Regions from separate parts of the Homo sapiens genome. Here regions 1, 2 and 3 are each linked to region 4. Evidence: fine-mapped expression QTL. A gene starts in region 4. Each other region holds a variant in brackets. All regions are shown on one strand. Distances are between the middles of the regions. Region 1 overlaps ZNRF1 (zinc and ring finger 1). Region 2 overlaps ZNRF1 (zinc and ring finger 1). Region 3 overlaps ZNRF1 (zinc and ring finger 1). Region 4 holds the start of ZNRF1 (zinc and ring finger 1).

Evidence for each region. PIP is the estimated chance that this variant, and not a neighbour inherited with it, causes the effect.
Region 1: its variant is the best candidate, but not a certain one, in a credible set for the expression of ZNRF1 in monocytes after LPS (Quach 2016, PIP 0.82).
Region 2: its variant is the best candidate, but not a certain one, in a credible set for the expression of ZNRF1 in whole blood (INTERVAL, PIP 0.76).
Region 3: its variant is the best candidate, but not a certain one, in a credible set for the expression of ZNRF1 in fibroblasts (GTEx, PIP 0.57).

What each region holds. Positions count from the first base shown.
Region 1 is chr16:75,088,251-75,093,398 of GRCh38, forward strand. The region is part of intron 1 of ZNRF1 (zinc and ring finger 1); the gene reads left to right. Among named protein-coding and RNA genes, the nearest start is that of LDHD, 26 kb to the right of the region's middle. RefSeq lists an enhancer at 1-127 and a silencer at 5,038-5,148. The variant C/CA (reference allele first, on the strand shown) is at 3,108.
Region 2 is chr16:75,050,225-75,055,372 of GRCh38, forward strand. The region is part of intron 1 of ZNRF1 (zinc and ring finger 1); the gene reads left to right. Among named protein-coding and RNA genes, the nearest start is that of ZNRF1, 54 kb to the left of the region's middle. The variant A/T (reference allele first, on the strand shown) is at 2,753.
Region 3 is chr16:75,103,429-75,108,576 of GRCh38, forward strand. It overlaps ZNRF1 (zinc and ring finger 1), which reads left to right. Exons shown (of 5, transcript NM_032268.5): 3 at 1,356-1,461; 4 at 3,054-3,143; 5 at 4,305-5,148. The coding sequence ends at 3,111. Among named protein-coding and RNA genes, the nearest start is that of LDHD, 11 kb to the right of the region's middle. RefSeq lists an enhancer at 4,238-4,407. The variant G/A (reference allele first, on the strand shown) is at 2,686.
Region 4 is chr16:74,996,028-75,001,175 of GRCh38, forward strand. It overlaps ZNRF1 (zinc and ring finger 1), which reads left to right and starts at 2,997. Exons shown (of 5, transcript NM_032268.5): 1 at 2,997-4,068. The coding sequence starts at 3,645. RefSeq lists silencers at 2,789-3,308, 3,709-4,018 and an enhancer at 4,809-4,868.

The DNA of each region.
Region 1 (5,148 bases), 92 kb after region 4:
TCGGATGACATTTCAGGAAAGAAGCTGGGGATATTAGTCTTTTCTAGCTGTCCGTGTTTTTTCTGTCCTTCTTACCTTTTACCCTTTATTTTCCATTTAAAAGGTCATCTGCAGATTCAGCATCTTACAACCAGTGCTGTAGGCCCAGTGCCAAATGGAAAGCAGAACTCCAGATAGTTATAACAGAGTTCCTAGGAAAAAAAAGTGTCCATTGTTTCAGGCTACAAGTTAGCCCGGACTATGGGGCACTTAAGGAGAAATTGCTGGGACAGTGTAGAAGGTTCATAAATGAGTATTTGGTAATAGCTGGTAGTATTTCTGTTCTTTCTGCCATGTAACTCTTCTGTGCTAGTCAGTCAGTAGCACAGCACACGAGCAAGAGCGCAGACTTCCTAGGTGTCGTGGGCCAGCTCTGCCTCTTTCTGGCCATGCGAATCTTGATCAGGTTATGTAATCTTCTGAGCCTTGATGTCCTCATCTGTCAAATGGCGTTAATGATAGATAGTACCTACCTACCGTATATGAGAAGACATGTAAAGCACCATGGCTGTCCATAGTAATGACTCAATAAATGCAAACTATTATTTATTATCATATGCAAGAGTAGGTGCTGCAGAGGTTAAAGAGAGACTGTTGGTTTCCAGTTGGCAGTATGGAAAGTGCCAGTCGTAGTGCACAGTGCTCGAGAGGTTCAAAGGAAACGGTGATGGCACCCGGCAGAGATGGGAGCTGCTGGCCACCCCCTAGTGGACTCTGCATAGCCCATGGCCAGTGTGCCCTTGCCATGGTCTCGAGGATGGAAAAGCCAGGTCATCATGTGATTTCCCACTCGCATAATAGACACCAACTTACTCATTTTTGTTTTTTGTTTAGACAGGGTCTCACTCTGTTGGCCAGGCTGGAGTGTAGTGGCATGATCATGGCTCACTGCAGCCTCAACCTCCTGGGCTCAAGCGATCCTCCTGCCTCAACCTCCCACGTAGCTGGGATTAGAGGCATGCACCACCATGCCCAGCTAATTAAAAAAAAAAAGTTTTTAATAGAGACGGGGTCTCCCTGTGTTGTCCAGGCTGATCTCAAACTCCTGGGCTAAAGTGATCCTCCCACCATGGCCTCCCACAATGCTGGTATTACAGGTGTGAGCCACCGTGCCCAGCCCAGAGCTATTTCTTGAGCTATGCCAAAATAAAACAGAAACACCAGAGGTAGTAGATGCTGGTGTTACTAACCCTGCTTTAGTTAAAGTGTAGGCCTCTTCCTACACCAGTGGTGCTTCCTCTCCAGAGGTAATATTTCCCAACATGCCTCGTTCTTAAAACCCTATGGCCAACTCTCCCTACCCTGACGGAAAGGACTTTAGATTTGAAGCAGAGAACCCTGAGGCTAGTCTCAGCTCCACCTCCTCAGTTGTGTGACAGTGTGCTACTCAGAGGCCTTCACCAGGGCCCATTCCCTCATCTGGACAGTGAGGGGATTGCTCTAAACTTGAGTCTCCGCCTTTTTTTTCTAGGACATGAATGTCTGGTGACATTCCCTTGTAGACCTTCTTGTTGGGTGGCCTACTTCCTAGTACCTTAGCTGTAACTCAACTCCCCTCCTGCACTCAAGGAATCACGCTGGAATACAGGGGAGTAAATGATGCTATTATAGGGATAACCTTGAATCTGTTCTGAGTTATCAGAAACATAAGTACCTGCAAGGTGTAGTTTTGTTCTTAGTCACAGGTCACTTTAACGCTAGGCAGTGAGAGTGTCAGGGCCTGGAGGCAGAAGGCCTGTCCTAGACCACATCCCTCCTCTCCTTCCACAGCCTCAGCCTGCAGGCAGGTGCCAAGTTAAAGTGCAGGTGTCCTTTAGTTATTTAAAGGGTTGCAAAACCTTGGTCTTTGGGGTTGAAAAAAACCCCATGTGAGTGCAGAGGGACTTAGGCTGGATCGGAAAAGCATCTTCCATCTGTGAGACGCAGGTTTACACCTCACCTCCCCATCGAGCTGTGACCCTGGATCTGCACATTTCTAAACTGAGTTAGAAAATAATCAGCCTGGTGTGTTTAGATCCAGCTGTGCAAGAAAACTGGATGGAATTCCCCTCCTTTCTTTATAGTCTTCTGGGGTTTGTTGTTGTTGTTCTGGTTGTTGTGTCCTTTTTGTGGAGAACGGGGTCTCACTGTGTTGCCCGGGCAGGTCTCAAACTCCTGAGTCCAAGTGATCCTCCCACCGTGGCCTCTCAAAATGCTGGGATTACAGGCGTGAGCCACCACACCAGGCCTGGTCTTCTAGCTTTGTTAATGATGGATTTATAACCACCCAGAGGTTAGAAATACAGCCCTTTCCCGAAGCTCCACCAAAGTCCTTGGATTGGTAGCGTTTCCAAGACTTTTTAAGTGACATGCTCAGATGCTAAGAATCTCTGAGGAAAGAGGTTGGGGAAATGGCGACTGTGCCATGGAGTCAACTGTCCACTTTGTCTGTAGTTAGCCAGGCCCTGAATTTTCTGCCTGGTCCCATAGTTCAAAGCACTGCCAATGAAGGGAAAAAAAGAGGATTTGGAGAGGACTTTAAGCAAAGTGGTTGCGTCAGTTAGCCTCCTGTCTCTCAGCACCCCGGGCCACCAGAGTCACGGCTTTTCATGCAGAGTTAGGCACCCAATTAAATAAAAATTTAATTTTAATTTGTATTTTTTGTAGAGGCAGAGTTTAACTATGTTGCTCAGGCTAGTCTTGAACTCCTGAGCTCAAGTGATTTCCCCACCTTGGCCTCCTAAAGTGCTGGGATTACAGGCGTGAGACACCGCACCCAGCCACATTCAGCCTTTTATCTGTTTCATAAGAAATGTTGGGTGACTGATGCCTGTAATCCCAGCACTTTGGGAAGCTCAGGCAGGTAGATCATCTGAGGTCAGGCATTTGAGACCAGTCTAGCCAATGTGGCGAAACCTAGTCTCTCCTAAAAATACAAAAATTAGCCAGGCATGGTGGCGCTCACCTGTAATCCCAGCTACTCGGGAGGCTGAGGTGGGAGACTCTCTTGAACCCGGGAGGCAGAGGTTGCAGTGAGCGGAGATCGTGCCACTGCACTCCAGCCTGGGCAACAGAGTAAGACTCCATCT[C/CA]AAAAAAAAAAAAAGAAAAGAAAAGAAATATTGCAGATGGTTATCACTAGTATCAATTAAAACTGCATATGGAAAATTTGACTAACACAAGAGTCCAGTCTTTACAACAGTATAGTGAACTCTTGAACTACGTGGGAGACTCTGACCCCCACACAGTCAAAAATCTGCATATAACTTTTTTTTTTTTTTTTTTGAGACAGGATCTTGCTCTGTCCCCCAGGCTGGAGTGCAGTGGCACAAACATGGCTCACTGCAGCTTTGACCTCCTGGGCTCAAGCCATCCTCCCACCTCAGCCTCTCAAGTAGCTAGGACTACAGGCACACACCACCACTCCCAGCTAATTTTTTTTTGTAATTTTTGTAGAGACAGGCTTTTGCCATGTTGCCTAGGCTGGTCTCAAACTCCTGAGCTCAAGCAGTCTGCCGGCTTCAGCCTCCCAGAGTACTGGAATTACAGGCATGCACGACCACACCCAGCCCTGTGGATAACTTTTGACTCCCCCACAACTTAACTACTAATAGCCTACTGTTAACCAGAAGCCTTACCAATAACATAAACAGTCGATTAAGATGGATTTTGTATGTTATAAATGTATTATATACTGTATTACAATAAGGAGAGAGAAAATAAAATGTTATTAAGAAAATGATAAGGAAGTGGCCAGGTGCGGTGGCTCACACCTGTAATCCTAGCACTTTGGGAGGCTGAGGGCAGGAGACTGTTTGAGCCCAGGGGTTCAAGACCAGCCTAGGCAGCATAGCAAGACCCCATCTCTAATATTAAGAAAAAAATTTTTAATAACATTTAAAAATATGTATAAGGAAGAGAAAATATATTTAGTGTTCGTTAAGTGGAAGTGGATCGTCATAAAGGTCTTCATCGTGTTCACATTGAGTAGGCTGAAGAGGAGGAGGAGGAGGGGTTGGTCTTGCTGTCTTAGGGTGGCAGAGGCGATAGAAAATCCACATGGAAGTGGAGCCCCACCATTCGAGCCCATGTTGTTTGAGGGTCAGCTGTTGTTAAATGTGCCACATTAGGAAGTCCAGGCTGGGCGGGCAGGAATCACAGTCACAAAAGGGAGAAACTGTGATGTGCACAATTTAATGCAGAGAAATAAGATTTCAGTGGCAACAGATCTTTTTGATAGAATGTATATGGAAAAGAATTGATCCATTTGAAAATCATTTCAATGAAAGTAGATTGGAAAAAATTAGAAATAATTCATCTGTGTTGTATGGACAAATGGATCAGGGGATTAGGTTTGCTTAACGGAGTTCAACTCGAAAGATTCTCAACCAAAATTCTCCAGTATGGGTACAATTCTGTATCAGTTGAAACTCTGGATGTGTAAGCAGTTCACACACATCTCAAAGGACAGTGGCCTTAAGCCACAAAGGAGGCAGAGGGGGCTGTGGGTGAGGGAGAGAGTTGCTACCTGGCATGGGCGGCTGAGGCTGGGAGCTGGGTGAGGGATGAGATTCCTCCCAGGGTGATCCAACCAAGTGGCTGAAAGGCTGTGAGGCAGAAGAATGTTAAACTGTTATGCAAAGGCTGTTTCCAGGTGCCTTGGTTTGATGCCTCCCTACCCCATTGTCCACCAGACCCATCTGAGAAAGGGTCTAAAGAAGATAAAACTCAAGTCAGGTGTCAGTGACCTTGGTTAAACCTTAACGAGGCACATAAGGCAGGGTGAGCCCTAGTGAAAGCTGGCAGTCAGTCAAAGGCTGCAATAAAAGGCAAATGCCACCGGGCGCGGTGGCTCATGCCTGTAATCTCAGAACTTTGGGAGGCCGAGGCGGGTGAATCACCTGATGTCAGGAGTTCAAGACTAGCCTGGCCACCATAGTGAAACCCCCTCTCTACTAAAAATACAAAAATTAGCCAGGCGTCATGGCAGACACCTGTAATCCCAGCTACTTGGAAGGCTGAGGCAGGAGAATCGCTTGAACCCGGGATGCAGAGGTTGCAGTGAACTGAGATCGTGCCACTGCACTCCAGCCTGGGCGACAGAGTGAGACTTCGTCTCAAAAAAAAAAAAAA
Region 2 (5,148 bases), 54 kb after region 4:
ACCTTTTTAAAATACTTGTGCCCAGATGCAGTGGCTCACTCCTGTAATCCCGGCACTTGGTGAGGTCGAGGCGGGAGGATTGCTTGACCCCAGGAATTCGAGACCATACTGGGCAACATGGCAAAACCCTGTCTCTACCCAAAATACAAAAATTAGCTGGGCGTGGTGGTGCACACCTGTAGTCCCAGCTACTTGGGAGACTGAGATCAGAGGATGGTTTGAGCCTGGGAGGCAGAGGTTGCAGTAAGCTGAGATTGTGCCACTGCACTCCAGCCTGGGCAACAGAGCCAGGCCTTGTCTCAACAATCAATCAATCGATCGTGTGTTCCTGATATTAAAAAAAAAATAAAAATACTTGTAGCCGCCGGGCACGGTGGCTCACGCCTGTAATCCCAGCACTTTGGGAGGCCAAGGCGGGCGGATCACGAGGTCAGGAGATCGAGACCATCCTGGCTAACACGGTGAAACACCGTCTCTACTAAAAAAATACAGAAAAATTAGCTGGGCATGGTGGCAGGCGCCTGTAGTCCCAGCTACTCAGGAGGCTGAGGCAGGAGAATGACATGAACCCGGGAGGTGGAGCTTGCAGTGAGCCAAGATTGCGCCACTGCACTCCAGCCTGGGCGACAGAGCAAGACTCCGTCTCAAAAAAAAAAAAAAAAAACAAAAAAAAACAAAAAACTTGTAGCCAGGTACAGTGGCTCACACCTGTAATCCTAGCACTTTGGGAGGCTGAAGCAGGAGGATGGCTTGAGCTCAGGAGTTTAACACCAGTGTGGGCAACATGGTGAGACCTTGTCGCTACAAAAAGAAAAAAAAAAAAAACAAAACCTGGGTGTCGTGGCACATGCCTGTAGTCCCAGTTACTCAGGAGGCTGAGGCAGTAGGCCCACTTGAGCCTGGGAGTTCAAGGCTGCAGTGAGCTATGATTGCACTGTACGGGTGACAGACCACCCCCTCCACTACTACCCACCTCCAAATACATCTATTTTTTTTTTTCTGAGACGGAGTCTCACTCTGTCGCCTAGTCTGGAGTGCAGTGGCACAATCTCAGCTCACTGCAGCCTCTGCCTCCCGGGTTCAAGCAATTCTCCTGCCTCAGCATCTCGAGTAGCTGGGATTACAGGTGTGTGCCACCACACCCAGCTAATTTTTTACATTTTTGGTAGAGAAAGGGTTTCCTCATGGTGGCCAGGGTGGTCTCAAACTCCTGACCTCAAGTGATCTGCCCGCCTTGGCCTCCCAAAGTGTTGGGATTACAGGCATGAGCCACCGCATCCAGCCTGCATCTTCCCCTTTTTTTTTTTGGGGGGGACGGAGTCTTGCTGTGTCTCCCAGGCTAGAGTGCAGTGGCATGATCTCGGCTCACTGCAATCTCTACCTCCCGGGTTCAAGCGATTCTCCTGCCTCAGCCTTGTGAGTAGCTGGGATTACAGGCATGTGCCACCACGCCCAACTAATTTTTGTATTTTTAGTAGATATGGGGTTTCACCGTGTTGGTCAGGCTGGTCTCGAACTCCTGACCTCATGATCCACCCACCTCAGCTTCCCGAAGTGCTGTGATTACAGGCATGAGCCACAGCACACAGCCCATCTTTTTTTAAACTATGTTTGTTTAATCATCACAAATCTATTCATCTATCCACTCCTTTATTTATCTATCCACCTCTTATTTTGTACACATTTCAAAGTAAACTATAGACATCTGTATACTTATCTTTAAATATTTCAATATGTACATCATTAACTGGTGTTAAGTATTTCTTTATAGCTTTTCCTCTTGGTGGAAAGTTTACATACAAAGAAATGTACACATTTTAAGTACATGTTCACTGGGTTTTGACAAGTACATGCATCAGCAAAACCCAAAACCCTATCAAGATAGAGAATGTGCCCGGGCGTGGTGGCTCACGCCTGTTTTTCCAGCACTTTGGGAGGCCAAGGCTGGAGGATTGCTTGAACCCAGAAGTTCGAGACCAACTTGGGCAACATGGTGAAACCCCATCTCTACCAAAAATACATAAAAATTACCTGGGTGTGGTGGCGTGCACCTGTAGTCTCAGCTGCTTGGGAGGCTGAGGTGGGAAAATTGCTTGAGCCCAGGAGGCAGAGGTTGCAGTGAGCCAGCATGGCACCACTGCATTCCAGCCTGAGTGACAGAGCCAGACCCTGTCTCAAAAAAAAAAAAAAGAAAAGAAAAAGATAATGTTATGTTACCCCACCTGCCTCACATTGTGAGTCAGTAGACTCATAGTTGGGTCCAAACATAAGATGTTTGTAAAAAGGTCCCTGATTTTGACCACTACCCTTTTAAATAAAGAAGCTTGGGGATGTGAAAGTCCTCCTCCAGGTCAGCAGGCTTGTTTAAGGTGAGACCATGTCCTCTGACCTCAGGGCTATGACTGCCATTCTCACTTCTTCAAGGCCACCTCCATTTCCAGCAGGCAGGTGTGTCAGACAGTAAAATTGAGAGAACTGTTCAGTGAACACCCATATAACCACCACCTCAACCGTGCAGCCAACATTGTCTATATTGCTTTATCACAGACTGTCTATACAGCCTTCCCTCCATCGATCTGTCTGTCCGTCCAGCTTACTGTTGTGATGCATTTCACAAAATGCACTCTTAATCATTGCATGATCTCTTTTGTGATTTTGCTCTGTGGAACACAAACTTACAGAGTTAAAGCAAGGCTGGCAACCCATGTGAAAATGAGGAGAATCTGAGCCTTTTCATTTGCTGCCACTGGGG[A/T]CATGATGTGAATCGGCGCCCTCTGACTTAGCTCCATGGGGCCTCTGGATTGGAAGTGAGGGAGGAGCCTCCTGAGCAAATGGACTGAAATTCCTGCCCTAGGTAGGCTGATTGCCTTCCTGAAGCTCTATTTATAGATCGCAGAGGAAATCTAGGGGGCTTTATCTCACTTCCCACCCCACATAATAAAACTGGTTCAGGTGGGTGGCTAGAACCTTAAAGTTAAACATCAATTATCTAAATATACATATAAGGTGGGAATAGAGGGTCAGAAAAGCATTTTTGTTCTCTAACTTGAGGACTCCAGCTAAAAACATAAAAATCGCCAATGGCTGGGTGCAGTGGCTCATGCCTGTAATCCCAGCACTTTGGGAGGCCAAGGCAGGTGGATCACCTGAGGTCAGGAGTTCAAGACTAGCCTGGCCAACATGGTGAAACCCTGTCTCTACTAAAAATACAAAAATTAGCCAGGCCTGGTGGCACACGCCTATAGTCCCAGCTACTCAAGAGACTGAGGCAGGAGAATCGCTTGAACCTGGGAGGCGGAGGTTGCGGTGAGCCGAGATCACACCATTGCACTCCAGCCTTCTGTGACAGAGCGAGACTCCATCTCAAAAAAAAAAAAAAAAAAAAAAATCACCAATGTCCAGTGGCTGTCACTATCAGGGGCTATTTGTGAGCTTCCCTAATGCCCATGATAGATGTGCCCCATGCTGTAAAACACATCCACCTATTAAATAAGCAGAGTGGACTCACATAAGTAGTAATTTCCTCACAAGCTCAGAAAATGTCTTTTCAGTTTGTACTTTGGTGTGTACACATCACATTTTGGAGAAAGTCTAGACTTTAGAAAAGAGCCTTTAGGGTATTCCCAGGTTGTTCCTGGGCTCCTGTACTCCCTGTTCAGGTCACCTCTGCTGGCTTTGGCTCATTGTGGCCACGCAAGTTCTTTGTTACATATTCCCTTTGGTGATCAGAGTCTTCCCAAGCCATGGTCAAAACTTTACTTTTCGTATGAACTATGTGTCTTCCCCTTCAGGGAATAGGACTGATGCCATTTGAGATTATTTCTTCCTTCCTTGTTGACAATTCCCTTTGTACTCCCCCAAGGCCCTAAGCAAGGACCCTTAGTTTCCTCTGGTTTCGTGGTTCCTGTGAAAAAGGCAGAAGCCCATGTGGAAAATCCTCATCCTGCTGTGTTTCAACAAGCAAAGTGCATTTTGTCTTTCAGAGTGGGAAGGACCTTAACTGTGTTGACCAGAAGTGCAGTTCCTGGCTTCAGCCATTTTGCTTTGGAGAAGGAAAATAAATGCAGTGACCTTTGTTGTGAGGGTAGGGTACTCTTGTTCTAAAAGTCCATTTGTGGTGAGGCGTGGCCCTGCTGGGAGAAGCTGATGCCACTTTGCCTCCCTGGCACCCTGCCAGTTCTGTCTGCTTTGTTGACTTTGGTGGCTCAAGGGACAAGCCAGGCACTGGCTCATCTTTTCCTGCCTGATTCTCTGGGCAGATTTCTCCATAGGGTCTGCAGGGAAGTGGGGGAAAGCTGGGTATGGTCAGAGTGGAGGTCACTATGTGGGCTTCTCAGTCCTCATGCTGGTCTGTGTCAGGTGCCTTTAATTCAGGGCCTAAGGAACCATTGCTTTTTAGCCTAAGCAGCAATTTAATAATTTAGCAATCAGGTAATACTGGCACTTTGTTCTCCCCTGGCTGTTTTCTCAAGCTAAGTTCTGTGTTAGCATTTCTTGATTTCTCCCCTGATACTAATCCTCCTGGGAGATTGGCCTTACCTATTCACGTGGAGCGTGGCTTCTCTAGGAATGTGGGAATTGCTCCATGGCAATGGTGCTTTGGCCTTCACTGCCCACATCACTGGGACCATCCCAGCCCTTCTTGTCTCTAGCCTTTCTTACAGGTCAAGTCCAAACAGGAGGATCTGACTCTCTTCTTGGTCTTTTCTCCTGTCTAGCTGTCTTGTTTTAGAGCAGAAATTAAAGGAGCAGGGTGTCCTAATGAAACTGTTACTGTGATCATATCAGCTCTCTAGAACAAATTCAGAAAGACGGCCCTTTGTAACAGGCAGACTGGGTGGGCAGGCGTTCGTTTGTAAAGAGATGGCTTTCCTCTCCCAACAAGCAGGGCCAGGCATCACCCCATGCTGCATTGATGCAGGGAGTGAATTGAGAAGTGTGGGAACGTCATTTGGACTCTTTCCATTGCTCCCATTTTAATGCTTTCTAAAGGAACTGTTTCTCAGGTTTAAATAAAGTGGCAACACTGGCTTACTAGAACTTATTTATTTTTATTTATTTATTTTTGAGGCGGAGTCTCGCTGTATCACCCAGGCTTACTAGAATTTAGAACCACTCCTTCATTTGTGTGTATCCATTCTGTCTTTC
Region 3 (5,148 bases), 110 kb after region 4:
TGTGATTCCACTTACATGAGGTAGCTAAAATACTCAAACTCATAGAAGCAGAGAGTAGACTAGTGGTGGCCAGGGGCTGGGCGGGGGGAAGGGGAGTGGTGGATTAATGGGTATAACATTTTAGTTATGCACGATGAGTAAGTTCTAGACATCTGCCATACAACATAGTGCCTACAGTTGACAATACTATGTTGTACACTTGAAGATTTGTTAAGAGGATAGAGCATATGTTAGTCTTACCACAATAAAATAAAGTTTTTAAAAGGGGAAAAAACGGGTCAGGCGTGGTGGCTCACACCTGTAATCCCAGCACTTTGGGAGGCCAAGGTGGGTGGATCACGAGGTCAGGAGTTCGAGACCAGCCCGGCCAACATGGTGAAACCCCGTCTCTACTAAAAATACAAAAACTAGCCAGGCGTGGTGGTGGGCGCCTGTAATCCTAGCTACTCGGGAGGCTGAGACAGGAAAATCACTTGAACCCAGGAGGCGGGGGTTGCAGTGAGCCGAGATAGTGCCACTGCACTCCAGTCTGGGTGACAGAGTGAGACTCCATCTCAAATAAAAGCGGGGTGGTGGGGGGGGAGAAAACCCCCTACCCATTAAGCAGTCACTCCCCATATCCCTCTGTCCCCAATACTGATCTCCTTTCCCTCTCTATGGATGTATCTATTCTGGACATTTCATATAAATGGGTTCATACAATAGGTGGTTTCTTTTACTTTGTGTAGTATTTTTGACGTTTATCCATGTTTTAGCATGTGGTGGTTCTTCCTTTTCTTGGCTTAGTAATATTCCATTGTGTGGATACATCATCTTTTGTTTATCCGTTGCGCAGTTTGTAGACACTGGGTTGTTTCCACCTTTGGGCTGTTGTGAACAATGCTGCTGTGAACCTCCGTGCACAAGGATTTTCTTGGGGACCTGTTTCTTCCTCTCATTCTTGCCTCCTACCACTCTACCCATTACCATATTTTTCCAAACCAGACATCAGCACACTGGCTACGTGTGTGTTTAGGAAAGCATCTGTGGAGGGAAACAGCTTGCCTCATGCTGCCCCTGCTTCCTGTCTACCCTTCTCCAAGCCTTTTTCGTCCGCTGTCACCTAGGCTTTTGGTTAATCACATGTTGAGATTAATCCCATTTTGTCTTTGGGTAATTAACATGTGATGTCCACGCATTATCTCCACGGTGAAAGTCTTAAGGTCAACGTCCCTCTTGGGGTTCTGTGTCCCCTGCAGAGCCGGGCACAGCTTGGGGCAGCTAAGCAGTCCCCTAGTTCCTAGGCCCTTGCTTGCCCCATGCCACCTGTCCACTGGTGACTAACCCTCCTGCACTCTCCCCTGTCCCCCTTGCAGATGATGTGCTGACTAAAGACGCGGGTGAGTGTGTGATCTGCCTGGAGGAGCTGCTGCAGGGGGACACGATAGCCAGGCTGCCCTGCCTGTGCATCTATCACAAAAGGTAGGAGGGGTTGGCAAGGTAGCTTAGTGCACCCCACCTCCCAGAGGGGCGGACCCCCATCTCCAGCCATTCTGTCTCCTTTGGTTATGGGATGACCTCTCCCCCGACCTCTGGCTCCGAGCGGGTAAGGGCAGAGGCCATCAGACAGGTGTCCACTGTGCCGGCGGGAAGGTGCGAGCATCCCAAGTGCAGAGCAGAGTGGAGTTGCCAGAGGTGTGCTCTGGTTTGAGGGCTCAGGTGGTGGGAGCTGATGGGGAGACCCGTAGAGCCTCACAGGTTGGAGGAGCTTCGGATCCCACTGGGAAGGTTGGTTCTCCGTCTGTCTCCCTGCCTCTTCTTCCTCTACGGGTCCCTCTGCTCCACAGGGGTAGAACATCAATCTGTGCGAGGAAGGCCAGGCGGAGGGTGTACCCACTGCCTTGCACTGGCCTTCTCCCTAGAGGGCCGGGAGGCAGGAAGAGCCATTTCCTGTGGGGCCACAGCACTGGGCACAGTTAAAAGTAGCAGGGCCCAGATATGCCTTGGGACTCCAGTGTGAGCCTCGTCCTTGTTTCCAGCTGGAAGGAAGGCACCCTCTTGCCCAAGACAGGACACTGTGCTGCCTGGGGCCAGCACCTGTTGAATCCTCGAGCCCAGAGCTTCTTCCTGACACTCAGGCCTTTCAAAGCCTGACTCTCAGGGCCACTGCTGCACAGGGTGACAACCGGGCATGGCACGCAGTGTGGCTGGTGCAGAGGAGGCTTAAGGCTGGCCTGGGAGAGATTCTTGGTCTAGCTCCCAGCACGGAGCCTTGCTTGTGTCCCAGGGCGGCACTAACCAGAACCAGAAAAGGAAATCTTTGGCCCTCGGGGAGAATTATGCCAATTATCTGTCTGGTTCCTGTCTTTGAAAATGCCCAGATGTTGGTTTACAAATCAGGAAGCTGTCTTGGGGCAATCTCTGTTCCCTCTTTGATGCAGAGAGCCTTTCTCTGTAAACACTGGAGAGCAGGGCTTCACTGTCTGGCTCCCCTCCCGCCTCTTGCAGGAAGGACTAGATGCTGCTGATCAGCTGATCATGGCTGAGCCGGGTAGAGCTTGGGGCTCTCCTAAGAGGTCACCCACTGGGAGGGAGCTTCACAGCTGTTCTTTTGACCCAGGAAGGAGCTCTTTCAGGACTGTGGCACCCAGAGCCGTGGCCCTCCTGCCATGCCATTGTTCCCACTTCCCTGCCCTTGGGAGTCTT[G/A]GAGACAGCTGACTAGCTGCCCTGAGGGGTCCACCGCTCTCACCTTCTCACTGGTGGCTGCTGCCATTCTCCTGGGCTCTGCACAGAAAGCTTTGGTCCTTCTGAAAGCCACTCTGCCCCTTCCTGCAGCACCAGATCCCCCTGAGCCGGTACTGCTGCCTCCACCTGGGCCAAGACTAGTCTTGGTGTTCACCCTTCTTCGTGCTTCAGAAAGTAGGGATATCTGGGGACATGACTGTGTTTCCCTGGGGTCCTTTCAGAAGAGACTTAGGAAGCTCCTGCTCAGGAATCTGGCCCTCTGAAAGAGCCCCTTCAAAGCAGCCTGGGCAGCAGGTAACGTGGTTTCCCTTGCGGCCCCCTCCTCCCAGCTGCATAGACTCGTGGTTTGAAGTGAACAGATCTTGTCCGGAACACCCTGCGGACTGACCTGCGGGCTTGCTTGCTGACTCCTCTCAAAGGTGAGCCCGCGTTTGGGGGTGCTCCGGGCTCAAGGCTTGGGGTCAGGTCACTTTGGGGGCCTGCAGTTTAGGGAGCCGGGCTGCCCTTATGCCACTGAGAAGAAAGCAGGAGCAGAGGGAAGGAGCACCTCATCAGTGAGCAGTTAGTCATCCGGAAATGATTTTCCCTGGGAAGGACAAGAGATACAAACCAACATGGACAGTTATGAAGAACAGGCTCAGAAGAGTTAGGATCAGTTGGGGAAGAGACCAGTACAATCTACATTCCTAAAGAAAGTTCAGGAATATCCCCTGGGAATGTGCACGGGCAGGAAAAGGAGCCTGAGCGGTGGGTTTGTGCCTGGCTTGGCCTCATCCTCGCTCACCTCTGAGTCTCCGCCTCTTCTATGGTAACGGGGATAATCTCACTCCCTGTTGCCATAAGGACATTGCACTTACTAAACAGCCATGGGCAGTGCATTGTTCCCTGCAAAGTGCTGGTCAGCGATCATTTGACCACTGCTTCTTCCCATGCCGCTTCCAGATGAATCTGAGGCCTCCAGGCCAGACTCGATCCCTCTATCCCACAGCACTGGGTGCTGACTCCACACATCCCCCTGGCTTACCGCTGGGTCTGGCCTCCCCATTTCTCCCCCAGGGGTACCCCACTTGCTGCCAACCATCCACCCCTGACCCCCATCTCACCTGTCCCCTCCAAGTTCTGGGCTGGCATTTTCCTTTTTCTGGCAAACAAGTAGACAAAACCCCCATAAAAACCAAAAGCCCAACTCCATCTCACAGCCAAAGGTTTTGGGACCTTTTTCTTCCCCCCTCCCTTTCTCTCTCTCTTGCTTTCGTTTTCTTTTGTTAGGTTTATTTTATTTATTCCAAGTAAACTCCCAGAACAGCTGATGATGTCAGACAAATCAGGGACATTTGCTCTTTTTACCTCCACCTCAAAAACTGATGACAAGGGGAGAAGAAAGAGCCAGGGGGGAGAGTGAGGCAGGGGAGTAGAACCTGCCCAGGCACATGGCTGCAAATTCCCCGTGTGCTGTTTGGCTTCTGGGGTCCTGTGTAGACGCCCCAGCCCCGCCTGCCCTCTTGGGATGCAGCTGCCCTGGGATGAGCAGACAGCCCTCGGCCCGATGGAGCACGACTTATTTATTACGGTCCACACAGGGACAGAGCGCCCCTGCTCCAGGGAGGAGGCTCACCGGACCCTGGGGCAGAGCTGAGCTTGGGACACCAGCGGGAACAGGGCACCCCTTCTGCACTGACTTCCAGATCATGGTTCTCCCTTCCTCCCTGAGGACACCAAATTGGATGAGAGCAAGTTTGAGAGAAGAATGAATCAACTGCTATCCTTCCCCTCACCCCTCAGCCCAGGAGGGAAAGGGCATTTTCTTTTTCATCTTTGAAAGGCATTGTGGGTCTGTCTTTAAAGTGTTTACAAAAAAAAATTATATAAAAAAAAAGTCTAGTGTCGACTGGTGTTTTCCCTCGTGATGTTTACAGCTTGCTGTTTGCTGCCCAGCCATAACCCACTCAGTGACAGACGAACACAGCTAAGGCCTCGCTGCCAGCCTTCTGACGGCGGGCGAGCACACGGTCTCTTCCCCTGCCCCAACTGGCCCTCTCCACCACCAACTTCTCTACTTTGGGTTTGTTTGGTTTTTTCCCTCTATTTTTCTGGCTGGTTTTTTGCTCTTTTCTCCCCTTGAGACCCTAATATCTTGACTTCATTGCCAAAAAACAACCCATTGAGAACTTTCTTCCTACTGATCCCATCTCTTTTCCCTTCTTTCCTCCTGGTTCCGGTCAGTTCAGAGGATTTAACAATCACAAGTGTCCTGCAAAAATGCCTGAACATTATTCTTAGGCCCTCGTGGATTTTTTTTTTCAGAAAACTTAAACAAAAAAAGACTTACTAAGAAATATGTACAGCTACCCCTGTTTTCAGGCACTATGTTTGAGAACATTTTAGCCATTGATGTTCACACGTGGCATCAGCCCATGCAAGATA
Region 4 (5,148 bases):
CTATTCTGGACATTTCATATAAGTGAAATCATACAATACATAGTCTTTTATGGCTGGCTTCTTTTAGTTAATATGCTTTTACAAGATTCATCCATGTTGTAATATGAATCAGTACTTTATTCCTTTTCATGGCTGAATAATATTTCATTGTATAGATACACCACATTTGGTTTACCTCTTCATCAGTTGATGAGCATTTGGGTTGTTTCCACTTTTTAGCTCTTTTGAATAATGCTGCTATGAACATTTACGTACACATTTTTCTGCAGACATATGTTTTGCTTTCTCTTGGAACTCTACCTAGGTAGGAGCAGAATTGCTGGGTCATGTAACTCCACATTTAATCTTTTTGAGGAACTGTCAGGCTGTTTTCCAAAGCAGCTGCACCATTTTACATTTCCACCAGCAAGGTACAAGGGTTCCAATTTCTCCACCTCTCATCAATACTTACTATTGCCCTTCTCTTTGATCATAGCCATTCAAGTGGGTGGGAAGTGTTTCTTCTGATGTTCTATGAGAACAGGGACTCCATCTGTCTGGTTCTGGTTCAGTACTGTATCCCAGAACCTACTACAGTGCCTGGAATTTATTACATACTAAATATTGTGTTAAATACACTAAAAAACTGTTCAGTGAATGGATAAATCAAAAGCTGTTTGGATAGTTACAATGGGTATCATGTATTTATCTCTCTAATAGGGATCTTCCACGGGGTCTAATACCTTTTTTTTTTTTAGTATAGTACTGAACCACTCTTCTGATACCATAGTCTTTCTTCTAGGAGGAAATGGGATTAAATTTAAGCTTTCTTGTTTTTCCTCTTTAGGTATACACATACTCATATAGGCACCTACAGATAATTTATTAGATGTTGGCACATTTTGTTTCTTCCTATTTTTACTTCTCTTGCAAAAATTCTTACTTCTACAGGGCTGTTTGCTCACCTCCAGGTATTTCATGCTTGCAAATAGGTTTCCTCCTGTTTCCAGGCTGGCCACAATGGAACAATCAATACCTGTGACGGGCTAGCCTTGCTCTTTTTGGTTTTCTTTTAATATTTCTGAACATCCTGTTTTGGTCCCCCAGTTTAGAAGTATCTGGGGTCATTTAATAGGTGGAAGTCAGCTAAGCCAGGGACTGTGTGATACTCACAGCCAGCACCTAGCACTTGATAAATAGTTGTTCAGCAGTCACAGTGGCTCATGATGTAATCCCAGCACTTTGTGAAGCCGAAGTGGGAGGACTGCTTGAGGCCAGGAGTACCGGCCTGGACAACATGGGGAAACTCCCATCTCTACTATATATGTATGTATATACACATATATATATATCATATGTATATTTTGAGACAGTCTCGTTCTGTTGCCCAGTCTGGAGTGCAGTGACGCGATCTCAGCCCATTGCAACCTCTGTCTCGCGGGTTCAAGCCATTCTCCTGCCTCAGCTACCCAAGTAGCTGGGATCACAGGCGTGAGCTACCACACCTGGCTAATTTATTTATTTTTTATTTTCATTTTTTTTTAGTAGAAATGAGGTTTCACCATGTTGGTCAGGCTGGTTGCAAACTCCTAACCTCAGGTGATCCCCTGCCCCATCTCCCCCCACCCCCCCACCCCCAGCCTCCCACAGTGCTGGAATTACAAGCATGAGCCACCGTGCCCGGCCTGATTTTGAAATTTTTAACAGACTTTTACTCGGGAGGCTGAGGCAGAAGAATCACTTGAACCTGGAAGGCGGAGGTTGTCCAGCCTGGGAGGAGCAAGGCTCCGTCTCAAAAAAAAAAAAAAAGAAAAGAAAAAAAAGAAAAAGAAAAACAGGGCGGGCGCGGTGGCTCATGCCTGTAATCCTAACACTTTGGGAGGCCAAGGCAGGTGGATTACCTGAGGTCAGGAGTTCAAGACCAGCCTGGCCAATACGGTGAAACCCCGCCTCTACTAAAAATACAAAAAATTAGCCAGGTGCAGTGTGGCATGTGCCTGTAATCCCAGCTACTCGGGAGGCTGAGGCAGGAGAATCACTTGAATCCGGGAGGCGGAGGTTGCGGTGAGCCGAGGTTACGCCACACCACTCCAGCCTGGGTGACAGGGCGAGATTACGTCTCAAAAACAAAAACAAAACAAAACAAAAAAAACAGTTGTTCAATAAATGAATGTGAATATAGGAGAAAGACGGCTTGAGGTAGCAAAGGAACACTCCCTTGCAAATGATTCAGGCTTGGTCAACAATACACCTATTGAGTACCCACCGTGTCCTTGGCCCGTGGTGAGGGCCGAAACACAGCACATGGTAAACAAAACAGGGCTCCAGCCTTGGACAGAAGGTTTCTATAATCACTTCTAGCTGCGTTGTTCTATTTCCATACCCATATCTATTCACTTTTTATGGTACATCTATTGATTCTGAAAATTACATTTTAGCTAAGGAATCTACTCATTTGCTTAAGCCCAAAATAGGAAGTTATGATCTAGTGTCAGCAAAACGCCGGATTCACAAGTGTCCCCATGGCGCTGTTTACCCCCAAATAACTAAACCCCGCCAAATGTTGAGATTCCGGACGTGAGGGGTGCTTGGATGGGGAACCCCCGAAAGAATGGACATCACGTCCACCAGAGGGTGCTGTGGGGGCAAATTTGTGCCAGGAGGGGAGCTCGACCGGTGACCCTCAGAGCCAGGTAGGCGTAAGGAGTAAATCTCCTTCTTCCCGGTGTTTCCTTCCCACCCCCTCGAACCATTGCTGCCCCTCCCCCATACTTGGTTCCCCCTGAATAATTTGCCACTTTCGGGGACTTAAGAAGTGTTTGCTTTTGAAAGACATCTGGTTTCTGTGGCTAACGCCCAGTGGTCAGGCCGCCCAGGTCACAGGCCGGCCGGGGGCGGGCGGTGGGTGGGGACTGCTGGGGCGTCAGCGGCCCAGGCGCCGCAGGGACCGCGAAAGGGTTAACCCGGCGGGGGGAGGGGGAGGGGGCGCGGGCCGCGCCTGCGCTCTGCCGCCCTCCATTGTCTCCACGGCGGCGAGGAGCGCCGGCGAGCGCAGCCCGGGACCGAGCGGGGCGGCGCGGCTGGCGGGGCCGGCGGCGGCTGAAGCGAGAGCGCGACGCGACGCGACCGCGGCTTCCCGAGCTGCGCCTGGCCGCCCAGCGCCGCGGCCCGCCCGAGGCCTGGAGGGGTCCGGGCCGCCGTCCATGGTCGCGGCGTCCTGAGGCGGGGGACGCGCCCGGCGCCCCCGGCCCTCCTCCGCCTCCTCCCGCGGGGCGGGCGGCCTCCTCCGGCGCCTCCCCGCGCCCGCCCGCCGCTCGCCGCCGCCTCCCTCCCTCCTTCCCTGCGGCTCCCCCGGCTTTCGGAGCCCGGGGGCGGCCTGTGGCGCGCGGAGCCCGCGCCGGACTGCGCCTCTTTGGACCTTGAGGGGAAACATGCGTTTGCCTTGGATCGTTTGAAATTCTGAGTTTGGGATCCCCGCCCGCCCGCCTGCCTCTTCCGCCCCGCGGGTTTTTTCCTTTTTTCCTTTTGCTTTTTTTCCTTTTCTCCCTCCGGGTCTCCTTTTTGACTCCCTCCCCCTTTATGCTCGCCCAGCCCTCCCCCTGCTGCTGAGAAGTGGGGGAGGGTCTCGGCCTCCAGGTTCCCGCCCCACCGGGGCCCGGGCGAGCATGGGGGGCAAGCAGAGCACGGCGGCCCGCTCCCGGGGCCCCTTCCCGGGGGTCTCCACCGATGACAGCGCCGTGCCGCCGCCGGGAGGGGCGCCCCATTTCGGGCACTACCGGACGGGCGGCGGGGCCATGGGGCTGCGCAGCCGCTCGGTCAGCTCGGTGGCAGGCATGGGCATGGACCCCAGCACGGCCGGGGGGGTGCCCTTTGGCCTCTACACCCCCGCCTCCCGGGGCACCGGCGACTCCGAGAGGGCGCCCGGCGGCGGAGGGTCTGCGTCCGACTCCACCTATGCCCATGGCAATGGTTACCAGGAGACGGGCGGCGGTCACCATAGAGACGGGATGCTGTACCTGGGCTCCCGAGCCTCGCTGGCGGATGCTCTACCTCTGCACATCGCACCCAGGTGGTTCAGCTCGCATAGTGGTGAGTCCGCGGGTGGTGGAGGCCTCGGAGGGAGGGCGCGCCGGGGCGCCCCAAGCCTTCGCGTGCGTGCCAAGGTTTGGGAATGTAGTGCACGACCGGGATCTGTCTGCATTCCCTTTGGTTCCCGATGCCAAGGGATAAATGGGATACCTACCGTCTGGAAACTAGGCTTTCTGCGAGGCTGCGGAGCCTGGCGATTTAGGGACTCACGGCGTGTGTTCACTTGTGGAAGGGCAGAGCGAAGCCTACCTATTGGAGTTCCATTTATTGGCATCACCCTCCTCAGAGAAGAGGTCGTGTCTGGCTGAGAGCAAGTCAGCCTGGGTACTTCCATTCTGCCACTGCAGCACTGTGCCTGCCTCACCGGTAACGGAGAGATGGAGCCAGTTGGAGCAAGCAGTGTCTCCTAAACAGAGTGTGTGAAAATGAAATAAAATCAGGGGCAAGTGATGCCTGGATTAGGGCTCTCACTCTTGCTGGGAGAGAGAGGTGCCCAGTTTTGCCACCCTGCTGGAGATCTGTTTGAAATGTTTAAAATGGAGCAGCCGGCAGGCGGCTGGCATAGACAGGTGTGGCTGCTGTACGGAGGGCCCAGCCGGCGAGTCTCGCGGGGGCTTTGCAGGACCCGGGCTGTGGTCACCCGTACTGCATGCAGCAGGCTTGGCTCCGCGACTCTCGCCTCCCTCCATCTTTTTTTCTTCTGCTCCATGCTAAGTGCTTGGTCTTCCCGTGAATCTGCATCTTTTTGTAACAGGGAGCCTGTCACGGTGGGGCATTATTGCCTGGCTGTTGGCACATGACTGGGGAAAAGGAGGATTCAGAGAATCTGGATGAATTCATTTTATGAACTTCTGGTGACAGGCCAGCAAAAGGTTGGAGGGGGATTTCCCAGGCTCCTAGCGGGAGGGCAAAAAAGGCCTGGCAGGAGGAAAACAGGTCTGTCTGCTAGGTCAGGCATCTAGAAAATTGGCCAAAAGGGATGTGGGGGCCGCTATTTGCTAATTGGCAAGTTGAGTGATGAAGTTACATCTTAAGATTCTTTTGGGTGAGTTGGGAAAATTTAGATAGTGTAGGGGAAAG